Linked DNA regions of Homo sapiens. The protein of the gene in region 2 interacts with the protein of the main gene of each other region in a biochemical or structural test. Each region holds a gene or a part of one and is shown on either strand. Other genes may lie near its edges.

Evidence for each region. Proteins that work in one complex are often made in the same cells at the same time.
Region 1: the proteins of MAP3K8 (region 2) and TNIP2 form a complex in vitro, tested with the Homo sapiens proteins (one study listed by BioGRID).

What each region holds. Positions count from the first base shown.
Region 1 is NC_000004.12:2,753,075-2,760,552, reverse strand, and holds the start of TNIP2 (TNFAIP3-interacting protein 2), read left to right. Parts: upstream 1-4,216; 5' UTR 4,217-4,263; coding exon 4,264-4,539; exon of another isoform or gene 4,540-4,604; intron 4,605-7,478. UniProt on the Homo sapiens protein: Inhibits NF-kappa-B activation by blocking the interaction of RIPK1 with its downstream effector NEMO/IKBKG.
Region 2 is NC_000010.11:30,451,001-30,458,347, reverse strand, and holds part of MAP3K8 (mitogen-activated protein kinase kinase kinase 8), read right to left. Parts: intron 6,711-7,347; coding exon 6,604-6,710; intron 265-6,603; coding exon 112-264; intron 1-111.

The sequences.
Region 1 (7,478 bases), on a different chromosome or scaffold from region 2:
AGATGAGTTTCAGAACACAGAAAGTGAATGCTGGCTGGGCGCGGTGGCTCACGCCTGTAATCCCAGCATTTTGGGAGGCCAAGGCAGGCAGATCACTTGAAGTCAGGAGTTTGATACCAGCCTGGCCAACATGGTGAAACCCCATCTCTACTAAAAATACAAAAATTAACCAGGCATGGTGGCACGTGCCTGTAATCCCAGCTACTCAGGAGGCTGAGGAAGGAGAATCACTTGAACCCAGGAGGCAGAGGTTGCAGCTGAGATCGCAGCATTGCACTCCAGCTTGAGTGACAGAGTGAAATGCTGTCTCGAAAGAAACAAAGAAAGAGAATGCGGAAAGAAAGAGGGAGGGAGGGAGGGAGGGAAGGAAAAGAAAGAAATTGCTCCCTGTATCAGCTCCTGCCCAACTCTAGGCCATACCCAGTTGTGAACTCACTCAGCCAACTCTCATGCCTGGCTCCTTCTCACCCTTTAGGTTGCAGAGCTGGACTGTTATCTTGTCTCTAATCACCCTCTTTAAAGTTAGGTTCCTCCTTTTTTTTTTTTTTTTTTTTTTTTTTGAGAGGGAGTCTCGCTGTGTCACCCAGGATGGAGTGCAATGGCGCTATCTTGGCTCACTGCAACCTCTGCCTCCCGGGTTCAAGCGATTCTCCTGCCTCAGCCTCCCGACTAGCTGGGGTTACAGGCACCCGCCACCATGCCTGGCTAATTTTTGTATTTTTAGTAGAGACAGGGTTTCACCATGTTGGCCAGAGTGGTCTCGAACTCCTGACCTCAGGAGTCCTGCCTGCCTTGGTCTCCCAAAGTGCTGGGATTACAGGTGTGAGCCACCGCACCCAGCCTGTTGTTTTCTTATACACATTTTCCCCTTCCTTTCCTTACACAAAATTTCCTTACGTTGCAATTATTCTTGTTTTGGAAAAGGATCTGTCTCCACTATTACAATGTCCACACATGAGTCCCCAGTGCCTGGCCCAGTACCTAAATTTGCATTGAAGGCAAGAGCATGCTGGGCACTTCCCATGTGACCTTACTGAATATTTACAACACCCTCTAAGACAAGTGTTCTTGGAGGTCTGGGATCCCTCATCCGCAATTCTGAAATCTAAAAAGCTCAGAAACCCAAAATAGTTTTCTTTCTTTCTTTTTTTTCTCAGAGACAGGGTCTCACTGTGTGGCCCAGGCTGGAGAGCAGTGGCACAATCACCATTTACTGCAGCCTCAAACCCCTGCCTCAAGCAATCCTATCTCAGCCTCCTGAGTATCTGGGACTACTGGCACACACCATCACACCCACCTAGTTTCTTTTAACTTTTTGTAGAGATGGGGTTTTGCTATGTTGCCCAGGCTGGGCTCCAACTTCTGGGCTCAAGAGATCCTCCTGCCTTGGCCTCCCTAAGTGCTGGGATTACAGGCATGAGCCACTGCACCTGGCCCCAAAATGTTTTTCTTAAAGGTGGTACAAAATCTGACTTCAACAGCTACAAGGCTTTTTCTGATCTTCATTCATCTCGCAGTCTGAATGGTCACCCTGTCTTTGCAGAAATTGTAATCTGTCTGGTTTTGTGGTGCTGTACCATGTCCCAGTGGGAGCACTAAGTCAGATTTTAGCTGTTCATTTTCCATTGCTGCAGAACAAACTATCCCAAATGTTAGTAGCTTAAAACAATAAGCATATATTATCTCATCCAGTTTCTGTGGTCAGGGACTCAGAGCAGTTTAGCTGGGCGGTCCTGGCCCGGGGTCTTCCATGGAGTCACAGTCAGTATGTCAGTGGGGGCTACTGTCTTCTGAAGGCTTGACTAGGGTCGGAGGATACAGTCCCAAAGTGGCTTCTTCACCACAGTGGGCAAGTGGGCGCCGGCTGCTGCCATGAAGCCTCAGTTCCTTGCCACATGGACCTCTTCACAGGGTTACTTGATGATAGGGTGGGTGGCTTCCCCCAGAGAGAATGCTCCGAAAGAGGGCAAGGCAGTAGCCGTGATGTCTTGTGGGAGCTAGCTGCAGAAGTCACACTCCATCATTTCTGCAGTACCCTCTTAGTTACCCAGGTCAGCCCTCTCCAGTGGATTGGAGGGGACTACACAGGAGCATGGATATTGGAAGGAGGGGATCCTCTTTGAAAGCTGGCTCCCCCAGTTATATGTACCTATTTGAAATCCAAAGATCCTCATTTCTAAAATACACATGGCGGCCTGGCGTGGTGGCTCACGCCTACAATCCCAGCACTTTGGGAGGCCGAGGCAGGCGGATCACTTGAGGCCGGGAGTTCGAGACCAGCCTGACCAATATGGTGAAACCCCGTCTCTACTAAAATACAAAAAATTAGCCAGGCGTGGTGGCGGGCGCCTGTAATCCCAGCTAATTGGGAGGCTGAGGTGGGAGAATCACTTGAACCTGGGAGGCGGAGGTTGCAATGAGCCAAAAATCACACCACTGCACTCCAGCCTGGGCGACAGATTGAGACTCCGTCTAAAATAAATCAATACGATACAGTACAGTACAATACAATACAATACACCACACCTGACCCCAAGGCTGTTGTTGGATGAGAGACTGTGGATTGTCACATGCACCTTTTACAGTTGAGGCAGAGGCTCAAGGTAGGTCACTGGAATGACGTGCCCCAGGCCACACATTAGCCTCTAACAGCTCTGGGTCCAGTTTTGTTTTTTCCACTCATGCCCCAGACAATCAATAGGCATTGTTTGTAACCATAGCCATGGGGACTGTAGGCTTGCTGTGCAGCAGCCACTGCACTGGACAAGCATTCCATGCACACTCCACCCTCTAGTCCCCACAACAGCCCAACCAGGTAGGGTGGGCACTCGCTCTGCCCTTCCTTCTGCTGAGAGGAAGCCCAGGCTCTGATGAGTAAGAAGGAGCCTTCCATAGCAAAGCCAGGCCTGTGTAGCCCAATGTCCGGGCCATAAGCACTTGGGTGGCTCTGGCTTTGCTTATAGGCTTGTCTGATTCTACAAGCTTGTGTTTTCCCAGGCTCAGCTCAGGCTTGGCTGTGGATCACATAAGGGAAGAAAGTCAAGAAGCTGCTCAGGGGCGGAGCCTGTGGGCAAGTGCACACACAGGGAAGACCCCTGCCCTATCCTGAGTAGGGAACCTTGGAAAGACCCCATGTGTGCTTGGGCATCATTGTGGGGAAGACTGGGCTGTGGAAAAACACTAGCGTTTGTCTGGGAATTTTGGGGAAGGAAAGGGATGGAAAAGCGAAAGGGTGGGAAGGGGCTGGTTTCCTGCTGCTTCTGCTATATAAGAACAGCATCTAGCAGGAAGGTTGTCCCGTGGGCCCATACTAGCCACCTTACAAAGCAGCGTCTGCAGTGGCTGACGCCTGTAATCCCAGCACTTTGGGAGGCTGAGGCCGGTGGATCTACCTGAGGTCAGGAGTTCAAGACCAGCCTGGCCAACATGGTGAAACACCATCTCTACTAATAATACCAAAAAATTAGCAGGGCATGGTGGCGGGCGCCTGTAATCCCAGCTACTCAGGAGGCTGAGGCAGGAGAATCGCTTGAAACTGGGAGGCGGAGGTTGTAGTGAGCCGAGATCGCGCCATTACACTCCAGCCTGGGCAACAGAGCGAAACTCCGTCTCAAAAAGAAGAAAAAAAAGGAAAGAAAAAAGAAAGCGGCGTGCGGGGCAGGGGGTTGGAGCTCTTTCTGGGCTCAGTGTCCCCAGGTGACGGAACACATGCCACGTGCTTGGTGCGCTGCGAGCTCAGCTCCTGGAGCTTCTGTTGCTGCTGTGGCCGCAAGGCCTGGACCCTCGCGGGGAGATTCAGACCCACACTTAGCTCCAGAGCTTGGGGGTTGTCGTTAAGCCCTTCCTTTCCATCAGAGGCTGATGAATCCCCAAACTCCTGGGCTGAGTTCGACTCTCCGACAACTCCTCAGAGGCGGATGTTTGGGGCCACTGGAATAAGCCCAGCACCAGCTGGGGTGTGGACAGCCTCGGGGGCCAGGCCAACTCTCCCGGACGGGTGCGGACGGCAGGGGCGGGGCCGGGCTGTAGGCGGTGGGAGGGGTGGGGCCGGGCGAGAAGGGGCTGGGCGGGCTGCCGTCGGGCGGGGCTGCGCGGGGAAGGGCGGGGCTGCGCGGGGGGCGGGGCTGCGTGGGGGAGGGCGGGGCCGGGCTGTTGTGGGTGGGCGGGGCGCACCGGGGAAAGTTCCGGGAAGGGCGGCAGCCGGCGGGGCCCGGGCGCGGAAGTTGCCGGCGGCCGCGCGGCCTCCCGGGCGGGCCTACAGCCATGTCCCGGGACCCGGGGTCGGGCGGCTGGGAGGAGGCCCCGCGCGCAGCTGCCGCGCTCTGCACCCTGTACCACGAGGCCGGACAGCGGCTGCGCCGCCTGCAGGACCAGCTCGCTGCCCGCGACGCCCTCATCGCTCGCCTCCGCGCCCGCCTGGCCGCGCTGGAGGGGGACGCCGCGCCGTCCCTAGTGGACGCGCTGCTGGAGCAGGTTGCGCGCTTCCGGGAGCAGCTGCGAAGGCAGGAGGGCGGCGCCGCCGAGGCCCAGATGCGCCAGGTACGAGGGCGGGTACCAGAGGAGCTGCGGGAGCGAGAGTGCGTGTGGCGGCCGCCGGGTCCTGGGTGGGTGAGCGAGCGGGCCCCGGGTCCTGAGGGGTTGAGGGGGTACTGGGTCCTGGGGTTGAGTTGGCCTCGGGTCCTGAGGGGTTGGGGGAGCACCAGGTCCTGGGAGTTGAGGGGGTGCCGGGTCCTGGGGGTGAGGGGGCCCCGGCTCCTGAGGGGTTGGGGGAGCATCAGGTCCTGGGGGTTGAGGGGGTGCCGGGTCCTGGGGTTGAGGGACACTAGGTCCTGGGGGTAAGGGGCCGTCGGGTCCTGGGGGTGATAGGGCAACAGCTTCTGGGGGGTGAGGGGACCCTGGGTCCTAGGGGAGAGAGGGGGACCAGGTCCTGAGTGGGATAAGGGGACACCACGGGCTGAGGTGTGCTGGGTCCTGGGGGGTTTGAGGCGTCACCAGGTGCTGGTGGAGGTGAGGGGGCTCTGGGTCCTGCGGGGTGAGGGTGCAAGGTTCTGAAGGGGATAAGCGAATGCTGGATCCTGGGGGGTTGGGAGGGCACTGGGTCCTGGGGGATGGTGAGGAGGCACTGGGTTCTGAGGAGGGGGGTTGGTGCAGTTCTTGGGTTCTGTGTGTGTGTGGTGTATGTTCAGGTGGGCTCTTAGGGGTATTTTGAGGTTCGTGTGTGGGAACACATTCCGAGGGGGGTGTGTGTATGCTGTGTGTATTCTGTGTGTATTGTGTAGTGTGTATGTTCCGGTTGGTTCTTAGGGGTGTTTTGAGGTGTGTGTGCGGGAGACACATTCTGAGGGGTGTGTATGGTGTGTGTGTGTACGCACACATGTGTGTCTTGGGTCCAAGGTCGTGTACTCATATTGTGTTCTAGAGTCCCTTCCAGCCCTCACCCATGCATGTGTCTTTCACTAGTGGCGCTTCAACTCTATGCTGGGAGCAATGGCAAATGCAGCCCGTGTCTGATAAAGGACACAAATCCTAGGCTGGGTGCAGTGGCTCACGCCTGTAATCCCAGTACTTTCGGAGGCAAGGCGGGCAGATTGCCTGAGCCCAGGAGTTCGAGACAAGGCTGAGCAACATGGTGAAACCCTGTCTACAAAAAGTGCAAAAAATTAGCCGGGCATGGTGGCACGTGCCCGTGCTCCCAGCCACTAGGGAGACTTAGGTGGGAGGATCACTTGAGCCTGGGAGGCAGAGGTTGCAGTGAGCCAAGATCGCACCACTGCACTCCAACCTGGGTGACAAAGTGAGACCTTGTCTGAAAAAATTAAATTAAAAATGGACACAAGGGTCCGGACGCGGTGGCTCATGCCTGTAATCCCAGCACTTTGGGAGGCCAAGGCGGCGGATCACGAGGTCAGGAGATTGAGACCATCCTGGCTAACATGGTGAAAACCCATCTCTACTAAAAATACAAAAAATTAGCTGGGCGTGGTGGCGGGCGCCTGTAGTCCCAGCTACTTGGGAGGCGGAGGCAGGAGAATGGCATGAACCCGGGCGGCGGAGCTTGCAGTGAGCCGAGATTGTGCCACTGCACTCCAGCCTGGGCGACAGAGCGAGACTCCGTCTCAAAAACAAACAAAAAAAGACGCAAATCCTGACTTTCTTCTCTTTGTCCTTGTCTATGATGTTTATGTCTGTTTTTTGATGATAAACTATAACACCACAACAGCAGTATAAGTAACAGTTTTTTTGTGCAATAGTATTTGCAAGCATCTGAAACATTCGGGTGAGCTCTGGCATCTATTATTCCATTTGATTCATGGCTATTATCCTAGTTTGCCCAGGAAAGAAACTAAGCCTGCAAAGGCAGTAGTCTGCGAAAGATAGTTTTTGTCTCCAGGGTTGGCCCCACAGCCTGATTTTAGAGAGAAAAAGAAACATGCCCTTTTTAAAAAAGAAAAAAAATTATAAAACAATTTTGAATATCTGAAAAATAAAGAATAAAATAGCCGCTGTAGTCCCACAGTGCAGGGATGACTAGTGTTAATCTCTTGGCATGCCTTCTTCCTGTTTTTCCTCTGTGTATAAGGTGTGTGTACACTTGGCATGGTTGTTTTCATGCTGTGTATACAGTTGTACTTAATATTAGGTTGTCAGTATCTACATCATTTAAAATACTTTCAGCAGCCAGTGTCTCCCCTACTCCACTCTCTCCCTCTTTCTGGAAGGTACATCCTGACTCACTAGAGCAGAAGGGAAGTTTAGAGGTCACCTGGTCTGCACCAACAGGTTTTAGAGTTGTGGATGCCAGGAGCCACAGATGAGTACAGACCAAGGACCCGGAAGGACACTCCGAAGTCATCTCCAGAATGTTGGTGGGACAGGATGCAGGGACCTCACAACCAGAGCAGTATACTTGCAGTCGGTGGCCATTGGTGTTCCGCTCACATGTGTTCCCTGGTGTCCTGTGTATCTGGCCACTCACCAAGCAGCTTATTGCAGCTTCCTGGTAGCCTCAGATAGAATTAGTTCTGTGTTCCCAGTATTACTGGCCCTGGTCCTGTCTTCCCAACATGTAAGCATGTAGGTTTTGTTTTGGGATTTTTATTTTTTTATTTTTTTGAGACAGGGTCTCACTCTGTTACCCAGGCTGGAGTGCAGTGGCACAAACATGGCTCACTGTGGCCTCAACCTCCTGGGCTTACGTGATCCTCCTGCCTCAGCCTCCCATATAGCTGGGACCACAGGAGTGTGCCATCACACCTGGCTAATTTTATTTTTTTTTTGTAGAGACGGGATCTTGCTGTGTCGCCCAGGCTGGTCTAGAACTCCTTTCTTCAAGTGATCCTCCTGCCTTGGCCTCCCAAAGTGCTAGGATTACAGGCATGAGCCACCACGCCCAGCATGGGGGGATTTTTAATTATTTAAGGAACATTTTAATGATTTAGTTTTGTTTGTTTGTTTTTTTATTTTTATTTTTATTTTTT
Region 2 (7,347 bases):
CTCATTCAGATGGGGGTGGTATAGAAGGCAGAGCAGTCCCTCCCAAGCCTGCGGGATGCATAACTCAACGCCCCCCCCCGCCGCCCCCAGCCCTGGTTGAACCCCACTTACTATGTACAGGTAGGAGGGATAGGCTGAGCGAGGGTAGCGCTTCACCCAGGGTGGGGTGCCCGTCTGCATGTGGATGAGCGTGGCCCCCAGGCTGTAGATGTCTGCTTTGGTTGAATGGCCCCTGCACAGGATGACCTCTGGGCTCATGTAAATCTGAAAAAGAAGTGGGAAACATTCAGCTTCATTCCCCTCCTTTGTGTGGGTTTCCATTTCCCTAATCCAGTTCTGGAAATTGGCTCATTTGCCTTAAACTAGGAGAATAATGCAGGCATTCCCCAGGAACCATGCAGCAATTGCTGGAGGTGTCCCTGCAGTCTGATGAAGAACACCTGGCCGGGCGCGGTGGCTCACACCTATAATCCCAGCTGAGGTGGGCGGATCAGGAGTTCAAAACCAGCCTGGTCTCTACTAAAAATACAAAAATCAGCTGGGCATGGTGATGGGCACCTGTAATCCCATCTACTTGGGAGGCTGAGGCAAGGAGAATCGCTTGAGCTCGGAAGGCGGAGGCTGCTGTGAGCCGAGATCGCACCACTGCACTCCAGCCTGGGAGACAGAGCGAGACTCAGTCTCAAAAAACAAAACAAAACAAAACAAAACACCACCTTTTTCTGGTTGATCTGGTGGCAAAGAGCCTAGAACCAGGAATCTATCAGGGACTCCCACTCATCAAAGTTCTGCAGTACACTGATCAGGTGTAGCTAAGTTTTCAACTAAAACGCCAATTCCTTTTATATTTAAATGAACTACAAACAGACTTCTTTATCTGTTTGTCATTACACTGCTAACCTTCTAAATATCTGCAATGATAAAAGGTGATAGAAGTCTATAGGGTATTAACACAAATTTCTTGAAAGGGAAAAACTTAAAAAATAAAGTGTAATATTGTAGAAGTGATTCTAAAGAGTCATTTTTACAAACTATCTGTTATTTTTACCTACTATGTAGCCCAGTGACTAAATATTAAATGCAGCCATATTAACATTGTATAAGTTATATTTGGTCTCATGAGTCCATGCTGAATAAACAGGGCTGGTTTTATAAATAGTTTCTCTAACGAGCATTTATTTCTAAACTTAAGAAAGAAACAAAGAGAGGTGGGGCATGGTGGCTCATGTCTATAATCTCAGCACTTTGGCTTTTTTTTTTTTTCGAGATGGGGTCTCCCTCTGTCACCCAGGCTGGAATGCAATGGTGCGATCTCGGTTCACTGCAACCTCTGCCTCCCGGGTTCAAGCTATTCTCCTGCTTCGGCCTCCCAACTAGCTGGGATTACAGGCATGTGCTACCACGCCTGGCTAATTTTTGTATTTTTAGTAGAGATGGGGTTTCACCATGTTGGCCAGGCTGGTCTCGAACTCCTGACCTCGTGATCCACCTGCCTCGGCCTCCCAAAGTGTGGGGATTACAGGCGTGAGCCACTGAATCTCAGCACTTTGGAAGGCCGAGGCAGGAAGATTGCTTGAGCCCAGGAGTTTGAGACTAGTCTGGACAAGATGGAGACCCCCCATCTTTACAAATTAATTAGTTACCTAATTTAATTAAACATTTTTTTAAAAAGGAACAGAGCAAACACTGGTGACCAGTGATTTGTATTCATGGCTGGTGCAGACATATAGTAGTTAATATCCTGATTATCAGTATTTCGCTTGAAACAGCTTGTACACTGTCTGCCATGTGAATAAGAGAATGGAGGTCAGTGTTTCCGGAACACATTTCAGGGTAAGTAATTAGAGAACTAGCTTACAAAAACCAGAGAAACTGCCCAGTCTCCCCACCCTAACCCTGCTCAACTCCTTCCTGCAAGCCACTTCCGGGCCAGCTTCCTTTTGCTCTCAGCAAACAGGTGAAACTGAGCTCCCGTTCTCAAGCTTTCCCTGCAGCAGAGCCAGAGGACTTTCCAGAAGGACTTTGCTACTAAATATATCACAAACTTAAAAAATTAATGCACAACATTGTACCTATAGTCAACAATAGTGTATTGTATACTTAAAAATGTGTTGAGAGGGTAGAGTTCATGCTAAGTGTTCTTACCACAATCAAATAAAAAAGAAAAAGAAATGCAATGGGTATTATTAACTGTCCATAGAGGATGCCTATCTTCTCTCCTGTACCCCCTCCTCCCTGCCAATAAAGCAAGGATTGGGCGGAGTGCCCACTGCTGGTGTAGCCCACAGGGGTTGTGCAGAGGTGGCTCTGCAGGTTCTATGTGACTGCACGCCTAGGCAGCCTGGGGGGATGGAACATCTGTAAGCCTGGTGGCCTGGGTGCTGCCACTCAGGTAGAAACCCCAGAGCTTCCTGGCTCGGAGCTCTTGTTCCTCAAGCTCTACCAACTACCAGTTAGATCAGGGAGCAGCAGGGCATAATGTTCGAGCACTCTGGCTGATTAGAAGGCATGAAACAGCCCTGGTGGGACCAACACAGGGCTCTCTGAGAGTTCTGCACCCTCGGGGCAGGGCACTGGAGCAAGAGAAAACCTTGATGTCAGCGATCGAACCCTTCACCTTTCAATATGTTTATTAGAAAGGGAAAGAGACCGTGTGTGTGCGTATATGTGCATGTGATGACTATATGTTAACTTACAAAGGTAAAACCAAGCAGACTTAGAAGGATTTTTCAAAAAGGACCAAGTTCTAAAAGTAATTCTGATTTGTTATTCGCATTCACTATGTATTCTCTCTCTGTACCTTGCAACTCAAAAACAGTCTATTCTGTATATGCTGGATTAACCCTGGATGTGTATTACATGGTTACAATAGAATGCTCTGAATACCAATGCTTAGAGAGAGCAATCAAACAGGGGTAACCAGGGTTTGCATTTGGGAGCTATACTGCAGAAATCAGAAATTGTCTATGACTGTGCAGTAGCCACATGATCAAATTCTAACATCAGCCAGTCTGCACAGTTGACTAATTAGATCTCCTGGCTCTTTAAGTAGGAAGGGTAAAAGCAAGCTTGTTGAAAGGTTTCACTGGTCACTTCACAACTTTGTTCATTATCAAACTTCAACTCGTGTGTACTAGGCAGATATTAAATGCAGGCTGATTAGAAGAGAGTTTATATTTATAAACACCAAGGCACAGTTTTGCACTTCACAAAAAGCAATTTGCATTTGCCAAAAAAAACCTGATCCAAATACTACTCAGGAGTAAAATATGTTATTATCTCATATCCATGCATTCCGCTAGACAGCCCCAGAAAGAACACTTCTTTCTCCAATGTTGCAAAATGTTCAACTTCACCACATTGCCAGGAAGAGAAAAGTATTTTCCATCTTTAATACCATAAATAGTTTGTTTTTCAAACTGGTTCCAGGAAAAAGGGTGGTGGAATATTACATATCTGAACTCCTGACTAATGCCAAATATGCTGAAACATTTTCCAAAGAAAACATGTCGTAAGCATTAAGTCTTATTAGACCTCACACTTTGGTAAAGTATTCTTAAGATCTGGGGACTAAGCATTCTTAAAAAAAAAAAAAAAGTACAGCTTCCCTTCTGAATATTGTTCTGCTCAAAGACAACCGTCAAGAATCCTCGCTCGAGCATTTTCAATAATAACTTCAGTAATATTCACAAAAGCAAGGATTTCTTCTGCTGCCCGGGAGAGTGCTGGCTTTGAGAGAGTTGAGAAAGGACTTACAGAATCTTGGCGTTTTTTTTTTTTTTAGGACAAGGTCTTGTTCTATTTTCCAGGCTATGGGTGCAGTGGCATAATCACAGCTCACTGCAGCCTCATCCTGGGCTCAAGCAATCCTCCCACCTCAGTCTCTTGAGTAGCTGGGACTACAGACATGCACCACCATGCCATTTTTACAAAAAGTAAAGTTTTTGTTTGTTTGTTTGTTTACTTTTTGTAGCGATGGGGTCTCACTATGTTGCCCAGGCTGGAAGAATCTGGTTTGAAAGGAAGACAATTTTTTTGTGGCTGCAATCCAGTTCAGTGCAACACGTATACTAGCTAGACTAGACTAAGGGTTGTCATCTGATTGAACACCAAGACTGACCTGGTAATCCTGACATAGAGGTGCAGCCAAAGACCCTCTCTCTATTTCCTATGGGCACTTCCAGCAAAGAGAAGGGCATGGGGCTGAGTGGCTCAGGCAGTGCAGCTTCCCCCGGTAGTGGTGAGGGGCCAAGGAGGCAGCTTTTACACCCATTTACCTTCCTGCTTGCATCCAACCTTGTGCCCATCACAATCAACTGTGAACTAAACTGTTGTGCATGCTTTCTTTCTTTCTTTCCTTCTTTTTCTTTCCTTCCTTCCTTTTTCTTTCTCCTTCCTTCCTTCCTTCCTTCCTTCCTTCCTTCCTTCCTTCTCTCTCTCCCTCCCTCCCTTCCTTCTTTTTTTCTTTTTTTTTTTCAAAAGAGATGAGGTCTGACTCTATTGCTCAGGCTGGTCTCGAACCCCCAGGCTCAAGCAAACCACCCCCACCTCCTTGGCCTTTCGAACGGTTGGGATTACAGGTGTGAGAACACCACGCCCATCCCTAAACGGTTGCTCTTTTAATAATTCAGGTAATTTAAAGTAAGTCCTCCCACCAAAGAGTGAGGATCGCTGGAGTACCACTAAGGCTTGCTCCTCACTGCCTTGTGTCATGCTTCCTCGTTGGTGCTCACAAGAACCTGCCACATAGCAGATGCCCAGTGGACACTGGCTAATTGAATCACCCAGTCAGCCTAATGATGTGAATGTTAAATACATTACTTGGAAGCCCGCGAACGCATTTTTCAGAATCTCATTTAGAGTCAGGAAAGAAAGGCTTTTCTGGGTCGTTTTTTGCTTCACAGATGAGTTAAACATGAGTGCTGTTTTACATCTTTAAATAAGATACATTTATGCTCACTACTTGAGGTTTATTATAGAATTCCTAGGCTCAAAGAGAGGCCTTTAGAGTCCTCATAAATATTAATGACCATAGTTAAGACTGTCATTGAGCCAAAACTCAGTGATATTAGTTATATCACTAATATATTTTAATAATGTATGTAATATTATAATTTTTTAAAGTTATGTAGCAGTTAGACCTTAGGGTTAGACTTAGAAAGAACTGGGTTCAAGTCCAGGGTCTGTCACTGAGTGACTCTGGACACTTTATTTTAATCTCTGCAAACTTATTTCCTTGATTGTAAAATAAGAATAACAATAGCAACAACTGGGTTGTTGTAAGGATTAAATAACATACTGCTTTTTAAGTGCTAAACTTATTATAAAGTTAACTCTAATTCTATAATTATTATTAAAGCTGAACTGTGGGCCAGACACGGGGGCTCAAACCTGTAGTCCCAGCACTTTGGGAGGCTGAGGTGGGAGGATCACTTGAGGCCAACAGTTCATGACCAGCCTGGCCAACATAGTGAAACCTGCATCTCTACTGAAAAAAAAAAAAAATTAGCTGGATGTGGTGGCACATGCCTGTAATCTCAACTACTCAGGAGACTAAGAAGCGCTTGAACCCAGGAGGTGGAGATTACAGTGAGCTGAGATCATGCGCCACTGTCCTACAGCCTGGGCGATGGAGCAAGACTCTGTCTCAAAAACAAAAACAAAAACACACAAAATAAAGCCGAACTGTGGATATGATCTATTTTGGGGGGCTTTTTTTTTTTTTGAAGCAACATCTCGTTCTGTCATCCAGGCTGGAATGCCCATGGCTCACTGCAGCCTTGAACTCCTGGGCTCAAGCAATCCTCCTACCTCAGCCTCCCAACTAGCTGAGACTACAGGCGTGTACCACCACACTGAGCTAATTTTTTTTTTTTTTGAGATGGAGTTTCACTCTTGTTGCCCAGGCTGGAGTGCAATGGCACGATCTCGGCTCACCTCAACCTCTGCCTCCTGAGTTCAGATGATTCTCCTCCCTCAGCCTCCCGAGTAGCTGGGATTACAGGTGCCCGCCACCACGCCTGGTTAATTTTGTATTTTTAGTAGAGACGGGGTTTCTCCATGTTGGTCAGGCTTGTCTCAAACTCCCGACCTCAGGTGATCCGCCCATCTCAGCCTCCCAAAGTGCTGGGATGACAGGTTTGAGCCACCGTGCCCAGCCTAAACCAGTTTTTTTTTATAGAGATGGGGTCTTGCTATGATGCCTAAGCTTGTCTCAAAGTCCTGGGCTCAATTGATCCTCCCACCCCAGCCTCCCAAAGCACTGGGATTACAGGCATTAGCCACCACACCTGGCCAATGTGATCTATTTTGACATGACATTGTGTACAAATGTTCTATATTATATATATCAACATGTATATTATATTACAAATACTATTATGTATTATAAATAACATAGCAAAAAATACAATAAAAAATCAAGTGCTAAACTTAGTACTTGACACAGAGCAAGTGCTCATTAAATGTGTTCCAAGGAAAATAATGATTTAATGCAGTGGGTTTCTTCCCCTTCTTTGTCCTTCGTTCCCACAATAATTCTAGAACATTTTTTCCTTTTTATTCTTAATAAAATAGTAACCCTTTTCATGTGAACATAATTACCTCTGTTCCTCGGAGGTCCTTAGGAAAATAGACATCTTCGGTCATTTGAACACTTAGGCCAAAATCCACCAAAACAGCTTTTGTGGACATGAAAACAATGTTGCTAGCTAAAATGAGAGGAAATATTTTTAAGATAAAATTTTTTATATACCCATAAGTCAAATGAAAACATTATCTAAAACAATAATGAATCTCCAATCAGAAAAGACTGAAATGCTTCCTCTAGTGAGATGGTTGTATTATATTCAAAAGAGGAGAATGAAATTCAGAGTTGAGGTGAAAATCACTTTGGATCCATCAAGAATACAGCCAATGTGGGTATGAATGATTGTAGCCATTAATAATGTTCAAGAACTTGAATTTCAAACTCTAAGACATAAGCATACTGTTGTCAAGCCACTTTTCTAAAACAGAAAAGTAAAATACCCATCTTTTTTCCCAGTGAAAGTTGTGCCACTCTAATTTAGTACTGGCTATTAAAGGTTTACCTATTTCCTCATCATATCAGACTCCTAGAAAACAGTTAGTAAAGGTGTGTTTAATGGATTATTGTTACATTGGTATAAAAAATGAAAAAGGTATTTGTTTCTCAAAAATACTTGTCTCTGTGTTTGTATGTTTTTAAGTAAATTGCTTTTTTTTTTTTTTTTTGAGACGGAGTTTTGCTCTTGTCACCCAGGCTGGGAGAGCAATGGCGCCATCTCAGCTCACTGCAACCTCCGCCTCCCAGATTCAAATGATTCC